2 separate regions of the Homo sapiens genome follow, and region 1 is linked to region 2. A link means that fine-mapping ties the variant in region 2 to the plasma level of a protein whose gene starts in the linked region. Region 2 holds a variant in brackets. A gene starts in the other region. All regions are shown on their reverse strands. Region 1 holds the start of FCRL2 (Fc receptor like 2). Region 2 overlaps ABCA8 (ATP binding cassette subfamily A member 8).

What was found. PIP is the chance, under the fine-mapping model, that this variant and not a neighbour inherited with it causes the effect. Protein levels are from antibody-based Olink assays in UK Biobank. Linkage for the fine-mapping came from a reference panel and not from the study's own genotypes, which makes the PIPs less certain.
Region 1: it holds the start of FCRL2, and the variant in region 2 is fine-mapped to the plasma level of the FCRL2 protein (UK Biobank, PIP 0.98).

The regions. Positions count from the first base shown.
Region 1 is chr1:157,776,502-157,784,501 of GRCh38, reverse strand. It overlaps FCRL2 (Fc receptor like 2), which reads left to right and starts at 7,370. Exons shown (of 12, transcript NM_030764.4): 1 at 7,370-7,459. The coding sequence starts at 7,429. RefSeq lists an enhancer at 3,389-3,448.
Region 2 is chr17:68,928,145-68,943,136 of GRCh38, reverse strand. It overlaps ABCA8 (ATP binding cassette subfamily A member 8), which reads left to right. Exons shown (of 40, transcript NM_001288985.2): 3 at 1,098-1,198; 4 at 2,175-2,379; 5 at 6,022-6,186; 6 at 9,866-9,969; 7 at 10,623-10,849; 8 at 13,435-13,576; 9 at 13,903-14,088. The coding sequence starts at 1,103. Among named protein-coding and RNA genes, the nearest start is that of ABCA8, 20 kb to the left of the region's middle. The variant G/T (reference allele first, on the strand shown) is at 12,657.

The DNA of each region.
Region 1 (8,000 bases), not on the chromosome of region 2:
TGCTTATCATCTGTCTGTGCTAATGGGTGGATTTTTTCCCCCACCCACCATTCATTTATTAAAAGGTAGTTTTTGAGGGTCTACACTGTATGCAGGTGTTTTAGTTTCAAGTTTCTTCCTTTTGAAGCCTTAAGGTTTTGTTTCCTAGTTCCACATGGACTTTAAACACTAAGCCCATAAAAAGTATCTAGTATTGGCCGGGCATGGTGATTCACACCTGTAATCCCAGCACTTTGGGAGGCCGAGGCTGGTGGATCATTTGGGGTCAGGGGTTCAAGACAAGCCTGGCCAACATGATGAAACCCCGTCTGTACTAAAATACAAAAATTAGCCAGGCGTGGAGGCGGGCGCCTGTAATCCCAGCTACTTGTGAGGCTGAGGCAAGAGAATATCTTGAACCTGGGAGGCAGAGGTTGCAGTGAGCTGAGATCGCCCCACTGCACTCCAGCCTGGGGGACAGAGCAAGCCTCCATCTAAAAAAAAAAAAATACATAGCTACTGTTTAATTTCCTCCGTTACACCTCCCAGGGGATCAGTAATGCCAATTTACATGTTTAACACTCTGCTTTCACTTCATCATTTATCTACAATGGGGGGATTTCTCTCCTTTCTTACATATATAGTTATGTATTTAAAAATTATGTAATATTTATTCATCACTTATAAGCATTTAAGTGGGAGAATTTAAAGTGGGAGAATTTTCAGGTGTTTTAGTCTAACCAAACCTGCCAGAACTAGTATTCCCCACTTCTTGTTTTCCAAGTGGTGGTGGATTTTATTTTGATTTTTAAATTTTTTCATCATCTAAGGGGATTTTGAAAGTAAGAAAATTTAAATACCAGTGCTTAGTTTGCTATCTTGGATCATGTCTTCCATTATAAGTAATTGATCCAATTGGCTGGAGTCACAGGCTTTCTGATAATATTGATGACCCTTAATTTTCTCTGTATTTGTGGAGTTCTGTTATTCTATAATCATCTTTCCCTTGCAACCAAAACCTTTTTCATTCTCCCAATAGTGTGTCCACCAATACCACAATTATATCTTTAAACTTTTTTTCTTTATAGTTTCCTATGTATCTGATGCCAGATAAAAGTGAAAAATTTAATTAATTGAGAAACACTGGAAGAAAATTCTATTTTTAGTTATGCACAAACACTGAAATTGTTAGAAGTTAGCTCTAGAACTGATCCCACCCTTTGCCTTATCCTTGTCTCAGCTCTGGGTTCCTTCACCAGTGGGCCATTGATAGCTTTGCCATATACTTTCTTATGACTAGTTTTCCTGGACAGGTCAATAATGGTGGTTTCTTGTCACAAGGCATGTAAGCTTCCTGTAAGACACAGACAAATCTGCCACTATGGCATTGAGGAAATGACAATGCTAAATTTGAGTGAGATGGTTAAAGAGAGAAGAAAGAAGAAAGGAGGCTAAAGCTGAGACAAAATATGAGGAAGCGGCTCATCTGGGAGAACCCTGAAAAATTTATATAATGAGATTGCAATGAGCTTGGTTACAGGAAGTATGGGATACCTTCTAAGAAGAATCTTGGGGATAAAGGATTATGAGGGAAAAAAATAAGACTTCAATCCAGAGAAGCAGAGCAGGCTGCCGTAAATAAAATTAAAGCAGATTTGTAACTTAGTAAAAACAAAGTCCAGGAACCTAGGTATCTTTCTGGATTCTGGCTCCACTCTTACACCCCACACCTAATCAGTCATGAAGCTCTGCAGATTTTGACTCTGGCAAAATTTATCTCCTCCTCTTCATCAGAACCACCTTAGTTCAAGCCTTCATCTTTTCTATCCTGGACTGTATCAGTGGCCATACAGCTCTTCTATTTATCTCTAGCTTTATTCCTTCTAGTCCACATACACCCTGCTGTCCAAATTCAAAATGATCATGTTCTGATCATGGTTGAAATGCCACCATTAGTCTTGAAATATTTAGGGTTTATGGGTGCTACTCACCTTATGTCTCTTCTCCAGGTTTGGAACTAAGTTGACAAAGTCAGATTGGAGACAAAATATCAGCTTTAATAATGACCATACTAGACTAGATCATGTGACTTATATTTCAGCCAAATGGAGATTTTCTCTACTTTTCTATCAATAGGCTTTGGGACTTACTGTTAGGAGAGTTGTGTTTAGCCAGCAGAGGACCCTGGCTTCTGTGATAACTCATTGAGATAATTACACATAAGAAAATAAGCAGGAAGAGATTACTTTCTGTTTGAGGACAAGTGAAGAGAGAGAACAAGGTCATGAGCTGACATCTTCAACCCAACTCACCAATCAGATGAGCCTCTTCTCCCATGCAGAGGAACAAATAGTAGGAATAAAAGGACAATGGTAAAAGGACCAAAAGAGTTTTATCTAGTGGTGTTCTTTCCTGGGAATGGAGTGGGTGTCTCCTCCACCCTATGAAAATATAAAGATTTTCCCACCTTCCCACTTTTGGGCCTTACCTCTTGTGATGCTCTTCCTCATACCTTTGGATCTGCCATTCTAAAGTGCCTGTGGATACCTGAGCAGCCCGAATGGGTCCCTGACCTCTTACCATGCTCCTGATGCTTTCTAGGCCTGGAACTTCTCCATCTTCCTAAGTCTTATTTGCTTGATTGAAACCTACCTATCTCTCAATATTCATTTCTTCTGGAAGCCTTTACTCCTTAATCTCCACTGTGTCCATTCACATGCTGTACAGAGCTCCACCACAGCAGTGGGACACAAGTATGTTTACTCTTTTCTATTAGTCTTCTGATGCTAGAATGCAATTTCCATCAGGGCAGGGACCATATCTTTTTATCTGGGTATGTCTAGTGCCAAGTGTATTGCCCATCAAGCAGGGGCATTGAATAAAACTCCACTGAGTAACTGAATGCATGGCTTCATGCATGCATGAATTAATGACTGAATGAATAATGATTCTGCTTGGGAATCATATCTTTATGAACTGTGAAAAAGTTATTAGCAGAGTGTGTTAGAAGAGTGAGCAAAAAAAAAAAAAAAAAAGCATGGTAAAACAAGACAGAAAGCCATCAGTGTAATCTCGATCTTGGTTCTTGCTTTTTTCTTCTACTACAACTGATACTCACCAGCCTGCCAGAAAGACACCCACAGAAAGCTGCTGTGGGTGATTCTACTAACGGTTGGTGTAGTTGATGACCCATGGTTCACAGCTCCCCTTGGCCTGAAAAGTCATAACCCATCCACCTTCTGGAAAACCCACACATATACAATTAAAACAGGAAGCAGAAAGCTTTGAACTGAATTTGACCTCTAGACATCCCTCCCCACCTGTTGTTCTCATGGAACCCAGGCAACTTGCCAGGAAGTATTTTCATACACGGAGAGAAGACTGCTCACCACCACAGGTGCTGCTCTGATGTCTTCTATGAGCCTCCCTAAGTCTTTCTGCCTCTCTGCCTCCCCTCAGACACCAAGGCTGGGTTCCCCTCCACCTCCACTGTAGGAATAGTAATACCTTCTTTAGTAAGGATTTACCATAGTTTCCATTGCTACTAAAGGAACTGATAATCTTCATGACGAAGGAAAAAATCGAACTTTGTTAAACTCCAGTCCCCTAGAGATACACTATCTAAAACTTCAACTTACTCTTGGCCTTCTCTGATTCTCTGGGCTTTCACTATCTTCATTATCTTCCATGGAGGTAATGACCACTAGCTTCCAAGCATTTATACCCATTCTGAATTCTCTTTCATGCTATTTGCTCCATGCAGAGCCCTACTGGACTTCTAGATATAATAAATTTAATTGTAAAAAATCTTCTGGGCAGAAGGGCCTGGCTCTGTCTAAATTACATTGGAGAGTGTCTGCATAGACAACATTTGGTCTAGCCAGTTCTGTCCCAGAAGTTCTTCAACAAACAACATCACCTCCATAGAACTCGGAAAGTATCTAGTTACTATCTTGGACAGGAAGTTATTAGGGAAAGCCCCACTCAACAAAGACATATCATGCTGCTCAAGGTAATTATTGTAATTATTAAAACTGCTACTACCACTACTGCCATAACAATGATGATGACCATGACTATGACTACTTCTACTGCCATTTATGTAGCAATTATTATGACAAGTAATTTATATATATTATGACATTTAATTCTCTCATAGTGACCTTGGAACCCCAAGCTCAAAAGATTATATCTAGGGATCTTGGAAGTTAGCCTGTTTCATTTTCTTATTTTCCCACTCTAACTGTCCTAGTAATCAAATTCATCAAGCAGGAAGTGTGATTTGTTTTATTCTGACATATTTTATGAAGACTCTATTTGTCTCTGTCTCAGTTCTGGCATGCCCCAACTTGGCACTGTATTTTGTATTCCATTCAAGACATTGAACACGGTTCACAGAGATGACTCTTGCTCTGCATCTGGCAAAATAGGCTTCAGTATGTTACCACCTGTGGAATCTCCATGTTAAGGGTTTACCTGGTTGATCCAAGAGGCATTTATATGTATGTCTAATGCTGGTTCTTTCTGATACCTGTGACTCCATCCTGTTGGTGGCAAAATATCCTTGCACAAAAAGTATTATCTCTCACTTTGATCAAACCTACAAACATAATTTTATTTCTGCCACTATTGCCTTAATTTTTAAGTTACTTTCCCCACCCCCCACCAAGTGTCTATTAAGCCTCTTAATCTCTGGTCACAGTGCCTACTGTGCATTCAAGTTTAGCTACGCTTCCAGGATATGCCTATTCACTTGTAAATTACTGCCGTCTGTCAAATACAGAGTAGCACCCACATGAAACATGTTAGCCATCTTAGAGGATTTGTTGCCACCTCTGTGGCCCACACACCTCATTACTGCTGCTTTCCACCTGCACCTTTTATACCAACTGTGAATTTTACCTCATATCATTTGGTAACACCTTAAGAAATATTGATTCTTAACTGAAGAGGCCACATTTCCATAGAGGGTATATAGAAATCAGTGAAGGGATATGGATTATTTTGAAAAATCTCCTTGATGTCTATGAAAAACTTGTACCTACCATCAATTTACCATCAACTTTTTCATGATCCTATTTGTACTCCTTTCCTTAATTCCCTCCCATCCACAAAATTTCTATAGCTTCCAGGTTGGTCAGAATGGGAAGGAATTATAGGCCACCTAGAAACCCATTCAGTAGGCAAGATTTGATGATCAGTGACTAGCTTTGGTCCTGGGAAAGAGTAACTTACACTTTCAAACACATACAAACCGTTTGCCTATGCAGAAAGTTAAAGTAGTATTGTTTTCAACACTTTAAGATGAGAGAGGCCATAAAACCTAGTTTCTTATAATGAATCTTTAAAAAGTACGTAAATAGCATATGTTTATTGTAAGAATACTAGAATACACAGATAAGCAAAATAAGGAAAATAAAAATCAGCTTTAATTAGATTTTTTGGATATAATTACAGTAACTCTGTGGTGCGAATTGTCTCAGACACTTTTTATTGGAGAGCAGGGGATAATGTGCAGCAGATAAAGTGCACTCTGCAGCCACTTTTTTCTTTTCTTTTCTTTTCTTTTTTTTTTTTGAGACGGAGTCTTGCTCTGTCACCCAAGCTGGAGTGCAGTGGCACGATCTCGGCTCACTGCAAGCTCTGCCTCCCGGGTTTGTACCATTCTCCTGCCTCAGCCTCCCAAACAGCTGGGACTACAGGCACCTGCCACCACGCCCGGCTAATTTTTTGTATTTTTAGTTGAGATGGGGTTTCACCGTGTTAGCCAGGATGGTCTTGATCTCCTGACCTCGTGATCCGCCCGCCTCAGCCTCCCAAAGTGCTGAGATTACAGGCGTGAGCCACCGCACCCAGCCCACTTTTTTCTTAATCATATATCCTAGACATCTTATCTTGCTATTAAATATTATTCCACAGAATTATTTTAATGGCTGTTTGGTTTTCCACAGCATTTGACACATAACTTATTTTTAACACACATCTCTCCTTGTGATATATTTTTAGTATTTTCTTTTTACATTATTATAAGCAAGGCTTTAATGACCATCACATATAAATATTAGCCTTTCTCAAAGTAAAACTATGATAATAGTGAGAATAAAATGTTAAGTATCCAATTGTTAAAAATTCAATGTTAAGTATTCAGGTAAATGTTAAGTACCTGAACAGGTAACATTGAGTCTATGAATATTTTCAGTCAGTCCCTCATTTATAAGCACCTGTGATTTTTTGGTTTAGAGTTTCATCCTGCATAAGGTTCACTGATGAGACAACATCTACTGGGACTACATCTAATCAAAGTGAGCATGATAATAGGTGTTCACATAACACGCGCTTTGCTTTGTGTGAGATAACTGTATTAGGATCAGCCTGGGGTACAAAAAGCAATGCAGATTAGAAATAGGCAATGTTGTGATTACAGATTAGAAAGATGGCAATGTTTTCAGCAATATAGTGCAAGTGTTTTGAAGTTTAGTAAAATCTCATTCTAGAAAGTCATCGAATGACTACGAAAAATTTTACTTAAGAAATATGAGCTATTGAAACAATGGCCTTATTATTTTATGAACCTTGAGAAGCAATATATCAAGATAATAGGGCACAATGTTTAAGAGCCAGACTGTGACACTGGGCTGCCTGGGTTTGAATCCCAGATCTGTTACTACTAGAAATTGATTAAGCTGATCTTGGTCATTTTACTGGCTGCTATCATCTGAATGTTTGTGTCCTGGCAAAATTCTTATGTTGATACTTAATCCTCAATGCAATAGTAATAAAAGGTACCCACCTTTTATTACATGACCTTTTAGGGGTCATGAGTGTGGAACTCTTATGAAAAGGATTAGTCTCCTTGTAAAAGAGGCTTGAGGGAGCTTGTTTGCTCCTTCCATCATGTGAAGACACATAGAGGACACCATCTATGAGAAACAGGCCCTCATCAGACACTGAATCTACTGGTGCCTTGATCTTAAACTTCCCAGCCTCTTGAACTATGAGTGATAAATTTATGTTGTTTATAAATTTCTCAGTCTAAGGTATTCTTTATAGCAGCCCCAATGGACTAAGACACTTACCTTTACTAGTGCCTCAATTTCCTTATTCATGTGAAAGGGGATAGTGCCAATTCAGAAACTTGCTGAAGGTAATAAATAACTCTGTAAGCATGAGGCACTTAGAACTGTGTCTGACTCATTGCAACCCATATGTAAATGCTAGGTATCATAATGAGGGTCAAGTTACAAAATTTCTCTGGCATTGAGAGGATCAGCTATAATTGTTTTAGCCCTTCCAGGACAAAGATAATGGTTAAACATAGTGGCACTATTCTACTTCCTTTTTTGCTAATTATACAAAACCTATTCTGAAAACCACATTTCATCGCCTGCTCAGAGTCTCCAGTTGGTGACCAAGAGTACATCTCTTTTCAAATAGCTGGATTAGGTCCTCATGCTGCTGTGGTCATTGCTGGTCATCTTTGGTGAGTTCAATAATTTGACTGAGAAGTGAGGTGGCAGCTGAATGAGGTCTACTGCTCCCAAAAGGTTGGAGGTTTTATTGGAGCCCAGGGACTGGTGGGGATGCTCAGGTCCTGCCTGCAGCTTGGGCTTCAAAGGCAGATGCAAAGAAGTAGGCTGAGGACAGTGAATTTGCAGCACATCCATTAAGCATTAAGCACAATGCTTAATGTTCAAGGTGGACCACTTTTCCATTTGCTGGTCATGAATTGCTATTTTGATATCTTAGATCTCATTGAGTAATATAATGTTCTCATAGTAAAATGTTCATAATATTAGCATTTAGCAATGCCCTTCTCCTCCATGAACACCGATTATTCAATTGTTATCTATAAGATTTGGGTTCAGCAGATGCATTGAGACCCTTTGCTAATATTCCTCTGTTTAATCGTGGACAATGAGGGAGATGACAGCTGCTGCTAGAAAATAAGATTCCTGGGTGAGTGCAGTGGCTCATACCTGTAATCCTAGCACTTTGGGAGTCCAAGGCTGGTGGATCACTTG
Region 2 (14,992 bases):
AAAGTTCAATTTCTTTCACTAGGGAAAGAAAATTTTCTTTCATCCCACAACAAATTAGTAAAGAGAGCAATTATTTCTGCCAGAAATAACAAAGATCCCATTAAATTGTCTTAGATAGATCAATTCCTAAAACAGATTATTTATTCAGGTTCTTAAGCTAAATATTATAGAGTCATTAAATTGGGTGTTCAAGGATGTATTTATTGAAATTAAGAGTGGTGTATGTGTAGGTGTTGGTCTGGGTGCAATCTGGGGACAGAAACTACATAGTAATTAAATGAAGTAAGTTTAATATACAGAACTATTGAATAGTGACAGGAGAATAACTATAAAGATGGACTGAGAGCTCAAGAGGGCTTCCTAGGGCTGAGGGAGAATATCCAAAGAAGAATAAACATGAGGAGATAAGGTATTGACAATTGGATAAGAAGTGGTTGAAACCCACCGAATGGCAAAGAAGTCTGAATGGCAAGCTGTGGACACCAGTACTAGAGTGCACTCCTTTTGCAACAGGACGGCCAAAGGAAACAGAGCTTCGAGGAAAGGGATGTAGCTATCTGGGGCTCCCAGATATACTACTGCTACCCAAGTCAAGAGCTAGAGGAAACACACAGTGAATCCTGCACACTCTAGGTACTTTGCATTGGAGAAAACAATTTACTCAGTGGGGAAAAATACATTCTATAGCAACTCAGCAAATGAACTATTCTGATACCTGGATGGCATCAGATGCCTGCAGTGTCTCTACTGTCCTCTCTGCTGAAACAGCATAACATCATGCCAGCTGGCAAAGGAAAGTACTTAAAGGATTCAGATCCATTTTTATAGAGCAGGCTATGCAGAGTGAATTTAGGGCTGAGAGACAGTAAATTGATAACAGGCACAGGGCATCACAAATAAATGATGGAACAGAGTCTGCAAGTGGGGACGGAAGGAGAGCATGGGAGTAATACAATGCTGACTTGGGAACACTCAGACTCTTTGCACTCATTTGGAACATTGGAGTATTAGGCTACGTTTTTTTGTTGTTTGCAGGATATTTCTTTTTCTTAAGAACTTCATATTAATTTTATCTTCTTTCTTTTTCATTAAACAAGACAAGATGAGGAAGAGAAAGATCAGTGTGTGTCAACAAACTTGGGCCTTATTATGCAAGAACTTTCTTAAAAAATGGAGAATGAAAAGAGAGTCCTTAATGGTATGACTCAATATCCGTGTTATTCTCTATTTATGATAGGAAAATACGTGTTGCCTGGGAGTTATCTATGCCATGTGTATCTCCCCCGACACATACACCAAAAACACTAAAATACAGCAACGTTTATACAACAGAAAACGCTATTCTTCAGGCCATGAATCTGTTTGAAGATATTTCAGTTGACATGGGCTCATAAATTGAGGTCTGAAACCACTGAATCTGGTAGCAATTGAGAAATCAATACATGTTTTAAAAGCCAATGGTCACATTTGTTACTAGTGTCCCCAGTCATGGAGACTAGGGTTAAGATACTGACATTCCAAAGATATGGTAAACAAACCAACCCACCACAATGGGTAACTGGCATTTTCTCTTTGAGATCTTTTTCTCTTCTTGAAACAATTAGTTTTCTTCAAAAAAGTAGAAAAGTTGGAATTGTATTAAATTCCAAGAAGAAAATTAGCATTAGCTCTTATAATCTTACCATATAAAAAATCTTGATTAAACTTTGGTATATTTTAAAAATCAGATCGATATAGCTAGGTAGCATTTTTAACTAAATTGGAATTCCACTATACATACATCGTAAAGTTTTTTCCCCTAAGATCATGCATTTTGGAAATAAAGTGATTTCTTATTGGGAGTTCGCATGTGATCAGGATTTATAACTAACGAAGATACTATCCCTCCGATACTATCTTATTATTAGAATTATCAGAATGCCCTTACAAACTGGTATACTGTTGAGTTTGAAATTCCAGAATCTTGGCATGTAACCAGTATATCATTACTAAGCTAGCAATGCCTTGGAACTATCTCTTAAAACACATTGACTTTCAGCAGACTTTAAACAGTTTATAATATGGGATATATTGAAGTTAGAAAAGTAAAAAAGAGGCAAACTTTATGACAAAATGATTGTGGATGACTAATTTTAAATAAGACTTTTCTTTATCTTTTTTCCTGTATTATATAGGAATGGCTGAATTCATTGCTCCTACTACTTTGTTTGTATATATATCCTCATAGTCATCAAGTAAATGATTTTTCTTCACTGCTTACCATGGACCTGGGACGGGTAGATACATTTAATGAATCCAGATTTTCTGTTGTATACACACCTGTCACCAACACGACCCAACAGATAATGAATAAAGTAGCCTCTACTCCCTTCCTGGCAGGTAAGTTTTCTAGTTACTTAAGAAGAATGTCTGGTGTGAATATTTGGTTTATTTGACCGCAGATTTATACATTTAATTTGTATTTCAGTTTGATAATTAAACTTTCTGGAGTACATGAATTGGGAATGTGTCTTCCCTTTATTGGAAGTAACATCTCACCACTCAGTATCTAAGTTAAAACTACATGTATTGCTTGCCAAACAAGGGTTTACCATTTGGGGTGCGCAGTCTCTCAAAAAGAAACTTGTTGATCTGGTATAGGATTTGAGGAAGCATGAAATTATACAGACTGGTGCACATTTAGAGCAGTAGTGTTTAGGGATATGTTGACATGTGACTCTGAAAGCATTGTCACCAAAATGAAATCGTTGCTGTAGTGTTTTCTTGTTCTTATAGACAAAGAAAAACCAGTCTCTTCTTTTCCTAAATTTGATTATAGGAATTTTAACCCTACCTTTTAACACCAAAAACATGTGCTTGCTCTATTTGAATATTCCTTTGAGTATTCTGTATTTCAGATTTTCATCCTTCAGCATTAAGGTACTTAACGAGTTAAGGTTAAGTAGTTGTTAAGTTGAGTTAAGGTTAAGGTTAACTTAACGAGTACCTTAAAGCTGAAGGGTAAAGATCATTTTTATAACAATCATTTTTACAACAATGCTCTGAAATTAGAGGAGATGCAGCCTGGTACAAAGGCAAGAGAACTAGACTTAGAGTCAGAGGACATTTGATTAAAAGTAGTTCTAAGAGTCCACTCAGAACTGCTGTGATACATATGTGTCTGGAGTGCATTTTGAAAGCCATCAGCTTCTCTTAGCCTTATTATTAGCAAACGCAAAATAAGATTAACAATTTATGCAACAATAAACTCTTACAGTTTGAAGAAATAAGACCTTGTGTTCGATAGATCAGTAGGGTGACTAGTTAACAATGATCTATAAAAAATAATACTATATTTTTCATAAATATTTCAGTTGAGCGTAAGAGGCCCAACTCAATCTGTCTTAAGAAAAAGAATCTTTTGTCTAGCTTAAAAGAGCAGAGTATTAATGCAAGGCAGATTAGAGGTTTATCACCAACAGAAGTAAATCTCTGCCCCTCCGATATACAGCTTTGTGTGCTGGCTTCATTCACAGGTTGGTTCTCCCAGAGGCAGAGTTGGTCTGCAGACTCTCCAGATTTAAGCCCTCCCAGATTAGCAACTCCAGTGAAAAGATTACAGATCATTTCTGATAGTTCACAATAACTTCAAGGATTTTATCCACAGGAACAAATAGGTGACTTTGGGTTAGTGTTGATCTTGGTTCACCGAGAACTAATCTCTTTGGATAGGGGATATGCGGTATTTTCATTGCCCACTTGTTGAGTTCCCAGGTCATGAACCACATTGAAACCACAGGATATGTGAGCAGAGGAAGGGAAGTATCCCAAATGGATCATAGTGTGTTTTTATTAGAAGAACTGGATGTCAACAGATAAAAACAACATATGTCCTTTACAACTATAAATGCATACTTCAAAGGGAAATCTGTGGTGATCGCCCTGTCATTCATTCATAGGCTGGGTCGAGGGCTAAGGTAAAGATTAAAATTAGTGCTATAGTGAGTATAAGTTTTAAGTTGTTCATTTGAGATGCTCATGGTAATGGTAACAGGAGGATGGTTTCTAGATCAGCTAGTAAAAATGTAATGGCTACTAAGAATTTTGTAGAGAATGGCAAATGGTGTGTCCTGTTGGATCGGACCCACATTCATATGGGCATGATTTTTCTGTATAAATATTTAGTTGTTATAACCAGAATAACTACAAAAATAATGCTAGCAATGTATTTGTCAATAAAGTTAATAAGAAGTTAGTTATTCTGTTTTGGATTATACCAAACCTAACTGATTGAAAGCCAACTACGCTAATACTAAAAGAAGATTCTCATTAACAAATGGAGGTAGAAGTACAGGAACAGTCAGACTATATCTACAGGATGTCAGTATCAGGCAGCAGCTTCAAATCAGAATTGATGGTTGGATGTAAAGTGAGATTTAATTTGATGAGTTGAATAATTTTTTATGAGTTGAGTTATAATTTTAAAGTGACTTCGAGTTTGTACAACTGTGTGAGTATTCTAAAAACCATGAAATTATTAAAAGGGTGAATATTATGGTATGTGAATTACATCCCAATTTTTAAAGGAATATAAAAATTTGACTTAGAAGGTACTGACTATTCATTTTAAGCAACATAACTCCCACCAAGGGCGTTCTTCTAAGGAGAACCTATGCATCTTGCTCCACCAAGTCACTGGAAGCCTGCATAACCTCTTTTTTTCCTTTCTTTGTCAACTTCCGTCCAAATTCCACTCAAGCTTAAGTAATTATTAATCTTATGCCTGGATTCTGACCCCTTCACTGGATTCTGTATCCAGTAATCCAGTTCATGCACTTGCTATTTGGACTGTCTATGGCCAGAGTTTCCAGAGTATGTTGGACTTTTCCTTCCTGTGAGTTATCCAAAATATGCTTTCCAACGGCGCCTCACCAAGCATCACACCATTAGTTCCACATACATTTTAATGCCTATATTGTGCATCTTACCTACCAACACTGAATCCACTTCTGATTCAAGATTATAATGTGATATGAACTATCCACCTAAGGTCCAGTCTCCTAAACGGCCCTGAGACGTGTCTGCTCTTGCTGTTTCACAGACGTCCATAACAAGACCCAATGTCAGGAACTTGTGCTTCTCGACATTACCTCATTCAAAACCACATGCAATTATAATAATAAATATTCATTAAATGCTACAATATGGTATATTTCTACAAAAACTGTATTCTGTAAAAAGAGAATATTTTGTAATGATATTATTCTATATTCTGTACTCTATTAATATTCTATAATAATAATAATAATGGTTATTAAGTTTATTTTACAAATATAGAAATTGAGTAACAAAGGGTAAGGAATTTGCTCATGATGACATAAGTTTGAGAATAAAATTAATTCTATCAAAATACATACTTCTTGCTCCCTCTACATTCATCTTCAACACTTCCACCCCAATCCAGAACTTTTCTTGTATTTTGTCTCATTTTTCAGTATTAATAAAACATCCATGTGGCCTCAGACAAAATACCTACAGAAAAGAGGGATTCTTTCAGTGATGTCAACATAGTTTCTTAACATGTTTTTAAATTTATCACCTTTTTTAGCTTATTAACCATACCATCAGGATTATTAAAGAAAAATAAATTTGTATAGGTATGTCCACCTGATACAAAACAGTGCCTAATTGCAATTTAAATATCTATCTCTCTATATTTACCATTTCAAATTTATAGGAATGATAACTATTTTTGAACAGTTTAATTGGTATAGTAGGACATTGTATGTGATTGAAATTGGCTCAGTAATCACAACATATGAAAATAAAATAACTAATTTTCATGTATTTCTTCTGATTGCATCTAGATGGAACTTTAGAAATTTCTCTCCCACCCAACATTTTAGTCTAACTTTCTAAAAGTTAATACTTGATAATGTTTTATTTCCATAGAAAACTCTAGTAAAAGCAATTCAACATGACATCCTGAAGTTGTGTCTCCTAGTAATTTACTAACAATAATATTCCTTCTTGTAACAAAAGGTAAAGAGGTCTTGGGACTGCCAGATGAGGAAAGTATTAAAGAATTCACAGCAAATTATCCTGAAGAAATAGTAAGAGTCACCTTTACTAATACATACTCATATCATTTGAAGTTCTTGCTAGGACATGGAATGCCAGCAAAGAAGGAGCACAAGGACCATACAGGTAATTTTATGGCTCTAAAATTTCACTACTCTCTATTTCAATTATGTCATAAGTCATGTGTGGGAATAGAGGTTAGTATGCCAAATTAGAGCATCACTATCTGTCATAATGATGTATGCATGTCCCTCAACATTTAAAAAAAAATTCATTTTTGGGCATAAGAACATATCGATAAGTGGTCATTATATATAGTTATCTACATACATTTACATAGATATATATTTATATATGTAAATGAAATATGTATTCATATGTACACACATAGATATTATATGGAATATATGATTGTTAAAAGAAAACAAGGTAGTTTATGGATAAGATAGAACAAATTTCCCTTCAAATAAGCTCAGTTGTTCAAATTATACTACAAGGCTATAGTAACTAAAACAGCATGATACTGGTATAAAAATAGACATGTACATAAATAGAACAGAATAGAGAAACCAGAATGAAGCCACATACCTACAATCAAATGATATTTGACAAAGTCAACAAAAATATACACTGGGGGAAAAATCCTTTTCAATAAATTGTACTGGGAAAATTGAATAGCCTTATGCAGAACAATAGAACTGGACCCATATCTCTCACCATATACAAAAATTAACTCAAGATGGATTAAAACCTAAACATAGGACCTGAACCTATAAAAATTCAGGAAGAAAAAACTAGGAATAACCTCTTCTGGACATTGGGCTAGGAAAAGAATTTGTGACTTAGTTCTCAAAAGCAAATACAACAAAAACAAAAATAGAAAAACGAGACTTAATTAAACTAAAAAAAACTTCTGCAAAGCAAAAGAAACAATCAACAGAGTAAACAGATGACCTACAGATGGAAAAAAAAATCGCAAACTATGCATTCAACAAAGAACTCAAAGAACTCAACAAGCAAAACAAATAACCCATTTGCCTATTTTTCAGTGCAGTTATTTGAGTTGTTTGAATTCTTCTTTTTTCACAAGAAGACATACAAGCAACCAACCAACGTAAAAAAATGCTCCACATCACTAATTATCAGAAAATGCAAATTAAAACCAGGAGATAACCATTTTACCCTAGTCGGAATGGCTATTAGTAAAAAGTCTAAAAAAATCAGATGTTTGCAAAGATGCGAAGAAAAGATAACACTTATACATCGTTGGTAGAAGTGTAAATTAGTACAACCTTTATGGACAACAGTATGGAGATTTCTCAAAGAAATAAAAACAAACTACCATTTGATCCAGCAACTTCACTACTGGGTATCTACCCAGAGGAAAAAAAATCATTATATTTAAAAAGATACCTGCACTCATATGTTTATTGCAGCACTATTCACAAAAGCAAAGATAGAGAATTAACATAAGTGTCCATCAACAGAGGGCTGGATAAAGAAGATAATATATATATATATATATATATATATATAGGAATACTACTCAGCCATAAATTAAAATATTGATAAATTTGACTAGACATAAATTTTAAGAACGTCCCTTTATCAAAAGAACCATAGAGATAGTGAAAAATAAAGGCAAAAATTGTGATAAAGTGGCCGGGCGTGGTGGCTCATGTCTGTAATCCTAGCACTTTGGGAGGCCAAGCCGGGCAGATTGCCTGAGCTCAAGAGTTCGAGATCAGCCTGGGCAACATGGTGAAACCCCGTCTCTACTGAAACACACACACACACACACACACACACACACAATTAGCCAGGCGTGGCAGCGTCTGCCTGTAGTCCCAGCTACTCAGGAGGCTGAGGCAGGAGAATTGCTTGAACTTGGGAGGCAGAGCTTGCAGTGAGCCGAGATTGCACCACTGTACTCCACTGAATGCCAGCCTGAGTGACAGAGTGAGACTCCATCTCTAAAAAAAAAAAAAAAAAGGTGATAAAGTGTTTATAACAGAAAAATCTAACAAAAAATTAATTCCAGAATATGTAAATATTTACTTTGAATAAATAGGAAAAAGATCAAAAATAGAAAAATAACAAAAGGACATTAATAGGAATTTCATAAAACAACACAGATCAAGAATAAGCACTAGGAGAGGTGTTTTTCCTCATTAGCAACCAGGAAACTGCGTGTTGAAACCACATGTTATATCACTTCATGTTCATAAGATTTGCAAAAATTAGCAAATAGAACAATTCGAAGTATTGACAAGGATATGTAGCAAAGAGAACACCTATCCAACTTTACAAAATTTGTAAATTCCACAAAAATTGAGAAATTTTATCTTAAAGTTGAAGTGCACATAACTTATAACTCATCATCATAGAAATCTTATTAGTGAAACTCTCATACCTGTGTTAAAGATTTGCAGCCTATTCTCCTCTTCTTCCAGAGGACATAGAATAATTACTTTTTGTAGTCATAATAAGATAGCTAGACCCAAGGCATTTAAATGCAGGTATAAGTTCTTCATCTTTTCTCACCTGCTTCTGCAAACTAAGGAGTTGTGTATAATACAGACAGTACAACTCAACCCTCCTACCAAACACCTCTGCTGAATTTGTAGCCTGAGTGAGAAATACACGTTCACTGTGATAAATCACTGAGATTTAGGGGTTATTACTGTAACATATAAGAGACTATCCTGACCAATACAGATATATTTACAAGAAGACATATATACAGATTTTTATAGCAGCAGATTTTTTTTTCTGGTAATCACAAAAAGAAAAAAGGAACTAACCAAATTGTTATCAACAGGAGAATGGATAAATATATTGATTTACATTCCTGCAATGGGATTCCATAACCATAAAAAAGAAGAAAAAATTAAATGAGGCAATTTATTTACATTTCAAAATCATAATATGGAACAAATGAACATAGTTCATAGTAATTATTAGTAGAGTTTAATTTTTTAAATTACATATATAGTTTAGAGATATGTAGTGGCATATATATATACATAACGTTCAGGAAAGCAGTTAGCTAGTTAGAAACTTGGTGCTGGGGAAGTGCACAAGAGATTCTAATTGTATTTGAAATGATGCATTTATTTTGCAAATTTGTAGTGAGTCCATGCGTGTTTATTGTATTTTTATATCATTCGTATATCTGAAATATTTCAAGATGATTTCATGTAATATGCATTTAATTCCTATACTCAATTTTAATTCATCTTATTCAAGGATATCTCTTTAATATAGTTTACTATTAAATGGACTGACAGCTCTTTTTGAATAAATCCTTTTCTTCAAAAGATATTCTGATTGGCATGATTTAAGCGTAGTAAGTAATCTTACTTGAACTTCCATTGGCCTATTATGCCCGTGTTATATCCAGTGTTAGAAAAAGCTTTAGTTTAGTGTCTCTCAATCCATGTTAGGCTCTGTGAACTTTTGAAAAACATTAAAATATGTAGTTTTCACAATACAAATCAGAAAAGAGAAGAGACCAACAAAATTCTTCATCAGCAGAAAAGCACAGGACACGGTATGAGAAAGCTTAGAGTGTTATAATTTAATGTAAAACATTTCCTAAGAGTGCTCCACCTCATGATTCTGCCTGATTCATTTTGAGAATCATTGTTATAATTTATGTTTTCATAAGCTTTGAGTCAAAATAAGAACATTTGGAATTTGGGGTCATTGTAAAGTCCACTGTTTGCTATAATCAGTATTAAAATCATATTTCAATAATATAGATAGTGATGTAATGATAGTTATGATTTGTTTTTTCACAAAGCTCATTGTTATGAAACAAATGAAGATGTTTACTGTGAAGTTTCAGTATTTTGGAAGGAAGGTTTTGTGGCTCTTCAAGCTGCCATTAATGCTGCTATTATAGAAGTGAGTACAAAATGTTCAAAGCAAACTAATGTTTAATGCAAGTTAATGATATTAGAGGCATCAAAAGTTTCATGGAAGAAAATATAAGTGGATAGCCTTGTTATTTCCTTTGCTCACTCTGAAGTTTACTGAAGTTACTATATACCACGGAATGTAGATACAAACAGAAGAAAAAGTATCTCATTCATGGACTCAACTTTGTTGGGAAGCCAGGAATATAAGAAAATTATTAGAACAGAAGTAGACTATTACAGAACTATAAATCAGGTCCTCATAAGTAAATGAGTAAAAACCTCTCAGCCTTAGAATGCCATGGAAGAATGCCTAATTGAAATAACATTCCAGCTTGAAGCTTGAGATGAGGGGTGGCTTACTGAATATATAAATTGAGAAAAGCCATGCCAAGCAAATCATAAAGTAATGTTAGGCAGGGAGGTAATGAAACACACAGTAAATTCTGAGAGTGGTGAGTAACTCAAAATGCCTGGACTCCGAGGTCCCAGCAGGTCAATGACAGGACATAGAAGTGGAAATTTAGGTTAGTATCAAATCCCAATAGGCCAATCATACATCCACAAGAAAATAGATGGTTAAAAGAAAACTGCATGCTGTTCATTAACGTACAAATTTTGCTTATTAATGCCTTTCTTCAGATCACAACAAATCACTCAGTGATGGAGGAGCTGATGTCAGTTACTGGAAAAAATATGAAGATGCATTCCTTCATTGGTCAATCAGGAGTTATAACTGATTTGTACCTTTTTTCCTGCATTATTTCATTTTCCTCATTCATTTACTATGCATCTGTTAATGTCACAAGAGAGAGGAAAAGGATGAAGGCCTTGATGACAATGATGGGTCTTCGGGATTCAGCGTTCTGGTGAGTCAAACGCAGCACAAATAAATAAACGGAGGAACTCAGGAAAACTGGGAATCTTCAATGCATCTTTTTTTTTTTGAAATGGAGTCTCGCTCTGTCGCCCAGGCTGGAGTGCAGTGGCGTGATCTCAGCTCACTGCAAGCTCCGCCTCACAGGTTCACGCCATTCTCCTGCCTCGGCCTCCCAAGTAGCTGGGACTGCAGGTGCCGACCACCATGCCTGGATAATTTTTTGTATTTTCTGTAGAGACGGGGTTTCACCGTGTTAGCCAGGATGGTCTCGATCTCCTGACCTCGTGATCCACCCACCTCGGCCTCCCAAAGTGCTGGGATTACAGGCGCGAGCCACCACGCCCGGCCTCTTCAATGCGTCTTTATTAAAACCTGTTTCTCCACAACCAAGGGGTACAAATGAGAGATACCTACACAGAATAATTTCAGATCATGAACAAATTTCCACTTAGTTAATTTCAGTGGGGAGAAATGCTCTGCAGTGATGGACAAAAAAAAAAAAAAAAAAAAAAAAAGGAAATGTATTTTGCTTCTGGAAATTTTACAGGACTAAGTAGAGAGGCTGGTCATTTAATATATTTAACAATCTCTGACCCAATTTTATCTAAATCTATTTCAGATTCACTGTACTGTGAAGGAACTGCTATAGGAAATAAGATAAAAGGGGACAGAATGTGCTAACATTTAAGAAAATACAACTTCCATTACGAATAATATTGACTTTTTTAGAAAGGAGGAAGATAATCTTTTAAAGAAACATAAAAAGTAAATAAAAAAACTTTGAGAAAACAAATAAGGAGCCAAATGCAGAATTTTACAGAAAAAATAATGTCACAACTATCACACATCAATGTCCATTTAAAAAAATGTGTTGCCATGAATAAGAAAATGCCACTTTTAAACATTCTTTAGTAACAAGGAAAGAAATATAAAAATCCTTTATCCCCATGAATGGTATAAACTGTCATTGGTGTAATGTTTGCCAGGCTGAGGCTGCGTCTTACTGTGCTTCTCTGAGTTAAGGAAGAAGATTGGGGTTAGGTTATTGGTTGATTGTGAAGAAGGTGTAATGAGGAATGGCCATGGCAAGAGAGGCGTAAACAAGATAGACAATGGTGTCTGTGCCAGACAGAGGTGAGATGTGAGCTAGGAGGGGATTGAAAGGGAAAAAGAAGCCGAGGACCAGGAACTCCTTTGAGACTGAGGAACATGCTTGGTGTGCCTGAGGGAATGAGCTGGCAAAACAGGATGGTGAATAGGGGCTGGGTAGTGTGGGTTTAAAATGTCAGAGGTTGGGTGATTCCAAGAATGGACAAGGTTCTGTGTGAGAACTTATGAATAATTGACTGAAAGAGCATGGAGGTGATGTTTACAGGGAGTAGGACATTAAATAACAGAGAGGCTAGGGAGGCAGATGGGCTGTGCATAGGGCAACAAATTAGGAGTCTGGAAGAGTTCCTTCCAGTATTAACATCTTATACATCAATATTGACCTCTTGTTTGAATTAATACTGGAGGGAAACGTAGCAGAGCAGTGAAATCTAAAGACTATAGAGCCAAAACCCCTGAACTTGAAACATAGTTACATAACACCCTTGTTCATTAGGTTCTCTATCAATAAGATGAGGAAAATAATGGTATTCTGAATAGGGCTATTGGGAGAATAAAATGCTTTAATGTTTGCTAAGTTTTCTTCAATGCATATTAATTGCTATGTGTGTGAGTTATTATTGTGTTGGCTTTGCAGCTGTTTTGTTTTTGTTTTTTAAAATTATTATTTCATTATAGTTTTCAAA[G/T]AATATTGTAAAACAAAAGAAAAGAAATTGATGAGGAAAGGAAAGTGAATTATTCTGACATAAAAGAATGGGATTCAAAAAAAATCTTTCTTAACAAAAACAATGAACGGAACTAAAGGCAAGTATGTAGACTTTTCAGTGAACACATCCAGAGAAAGATGACAACAGCTTTTGGGGAAGGAGTGACATGACCAAATTACACATAAGGAAGAATTTCTTGTCTCTGAGGAAGCTTGTGATGGTCCTGAACTTGGAGAGACTCCAGAGAGGAGAGAAGGGTCTGAGGTTCACTGAGGGGCTACCCTGTATTAAGACAGTGCCCTACATAGCCATCATCTTATTTAGTCTTCAGTGGTAGTATTATTCCTGGTGTCCAGAGAAATAAAGGAATAATAGAGGGGTTACAGAGGTTGCCCAAGGTTACAGAGCAAGAATGCAGCAAATAAAATGTTCGATCCAAAATCTATTACACTGGAAACCTAATTCCCCCCCCACCGCCCCCACCCCCCAGAACAATGTGCATGTGTGTGTGAATGTATTTCTGAAATCAATTTTAGGAAAAACAATTCCTAATTCCCAAAGAATATTCCTAATTCTAAAGAATTCTGCCCAAAACTTTTACCTTGTATTTATATATCTTAGAACACCCAATAAATAAATGTTGAAAGAGAGAATGAATGGATGAATAAGTGAATGAAGAGTTATCTTAGAATCCATTTCAGGTCTTCCTTTTCAAGTGAACATAAAATACTAAAATAACATTTTGTTTCCACATTAGGCTCTCCTGGGGTTTGCTCTATGCTGGTTTCATCTTCATTATGGCCCTTTTCTTGGCACTTGTTATAAGATCTACCCAGTTTATCATTTTGTCTGGCTTCATGGTAGTCTTCAGCCTCTTTCTCCTGTATGGATTATCTTTGGTGAGTTAGTGAATTAAATATCTTTCCATCCACCTATAGCCTAAAAATTGTTTGTTTCCGACTGATTACTCTGTATGCCTCCTTTTTTTTCTACCTACTCTGTTTGCATGTGAAAAATCTATAAACAGGTACAATTTGATTTGAGGTGTTTTGTAATGTCAATTTTTAGTGCAATTTGCAGAGCATAGTTTTGTATGTTATATACAAAATAACTATAATATACAACTGTTACATACACAAAATAACTATAATTTTGTATATCTATTTTATTATGCTAGTAATAATGTTAGAGAAACATAAACCAACTAGATCTTCTCTCATTTTAGGTAGCTTTGGCTTTCTTAATGAGCATCTTGGTAAAGAAATCTTTCCTCACCGGCCTGGTCGTGTTCCTCCTCACTGTCTTTTGGGGGTGTCTGGGGTTCACATCACTGTACAGACACCTTCCTGCATCCTTGGAGTGGATTTTAAGCTTGCTTAGTCCCTTTGCCTTCATGCTTGGAATGGCCCAGGTGAGATGCCATCTGAATGTCTATTAATGGCATTTCTGAAACATCTGTCCCTCTGGAATCCATAGGCTGTAATCATTTACAAACTCAGCATTGTAAGGCTTAAAATTCTAGCGAAGGCTGTTGTAAAGTTGCAAAGACAGAACTTTTAAAAGCTTGGAAATTATTTAGCCCAGCAAAATAAGACATTTGGAAAGTGAAAAAAAGAGGATCAACATACAATTATTTAAAGGCAATATAAAGTATTTTCTTAGGCTATTAATTAAATATGGACATGTGGCAAATCTAATTATAAATAACTATTCCAGTTCATGTTTTTACCTAGTAATTGAAGAGAATACGTGATTAAAAACCATTAAATCAAATTAAATTAAAAATTTAAAACATCTGGAAAATTCATTAGTAAATTATGTTTCTATTCATAAAATGTCTTTTCTGTTTATGTGATTCTTATTGAATTCCCCTTGCCTTCCCTCTAACTAAATGGAAATGTCAACCATTAAATATCCATTATTTAGTGTTTAACAAAAGGATTGTTAATTATAAAGAGCTCATTAACTTGAACATCATAGACAAGCCCACTTCTGGTTCTACTTAAACACAGCAGTGCCTTTTGCCCAGAAATTCTCCCTCATGCCGCCAATTTACATGGATCACCACACCTTTTGACTGTGTCCTATTTGGTAAAAGTTCATCTAAGTTCGATCTCAAATGTCATCTCTTCCCATACTTCCCTACTTCCTCCTAATGTTTCAATTTCATTTGGAACATATTTTTATCATAGCAATTACTAAATTGCATTCTAGTTGCTCATATGTCCATGCCTTCCAAGGCATAGATTTGAGAACCATAAAGGAGGCAGTCTCCCTATATAACTCTATTCTCAGTATGAGGCAATAAGTAGTCA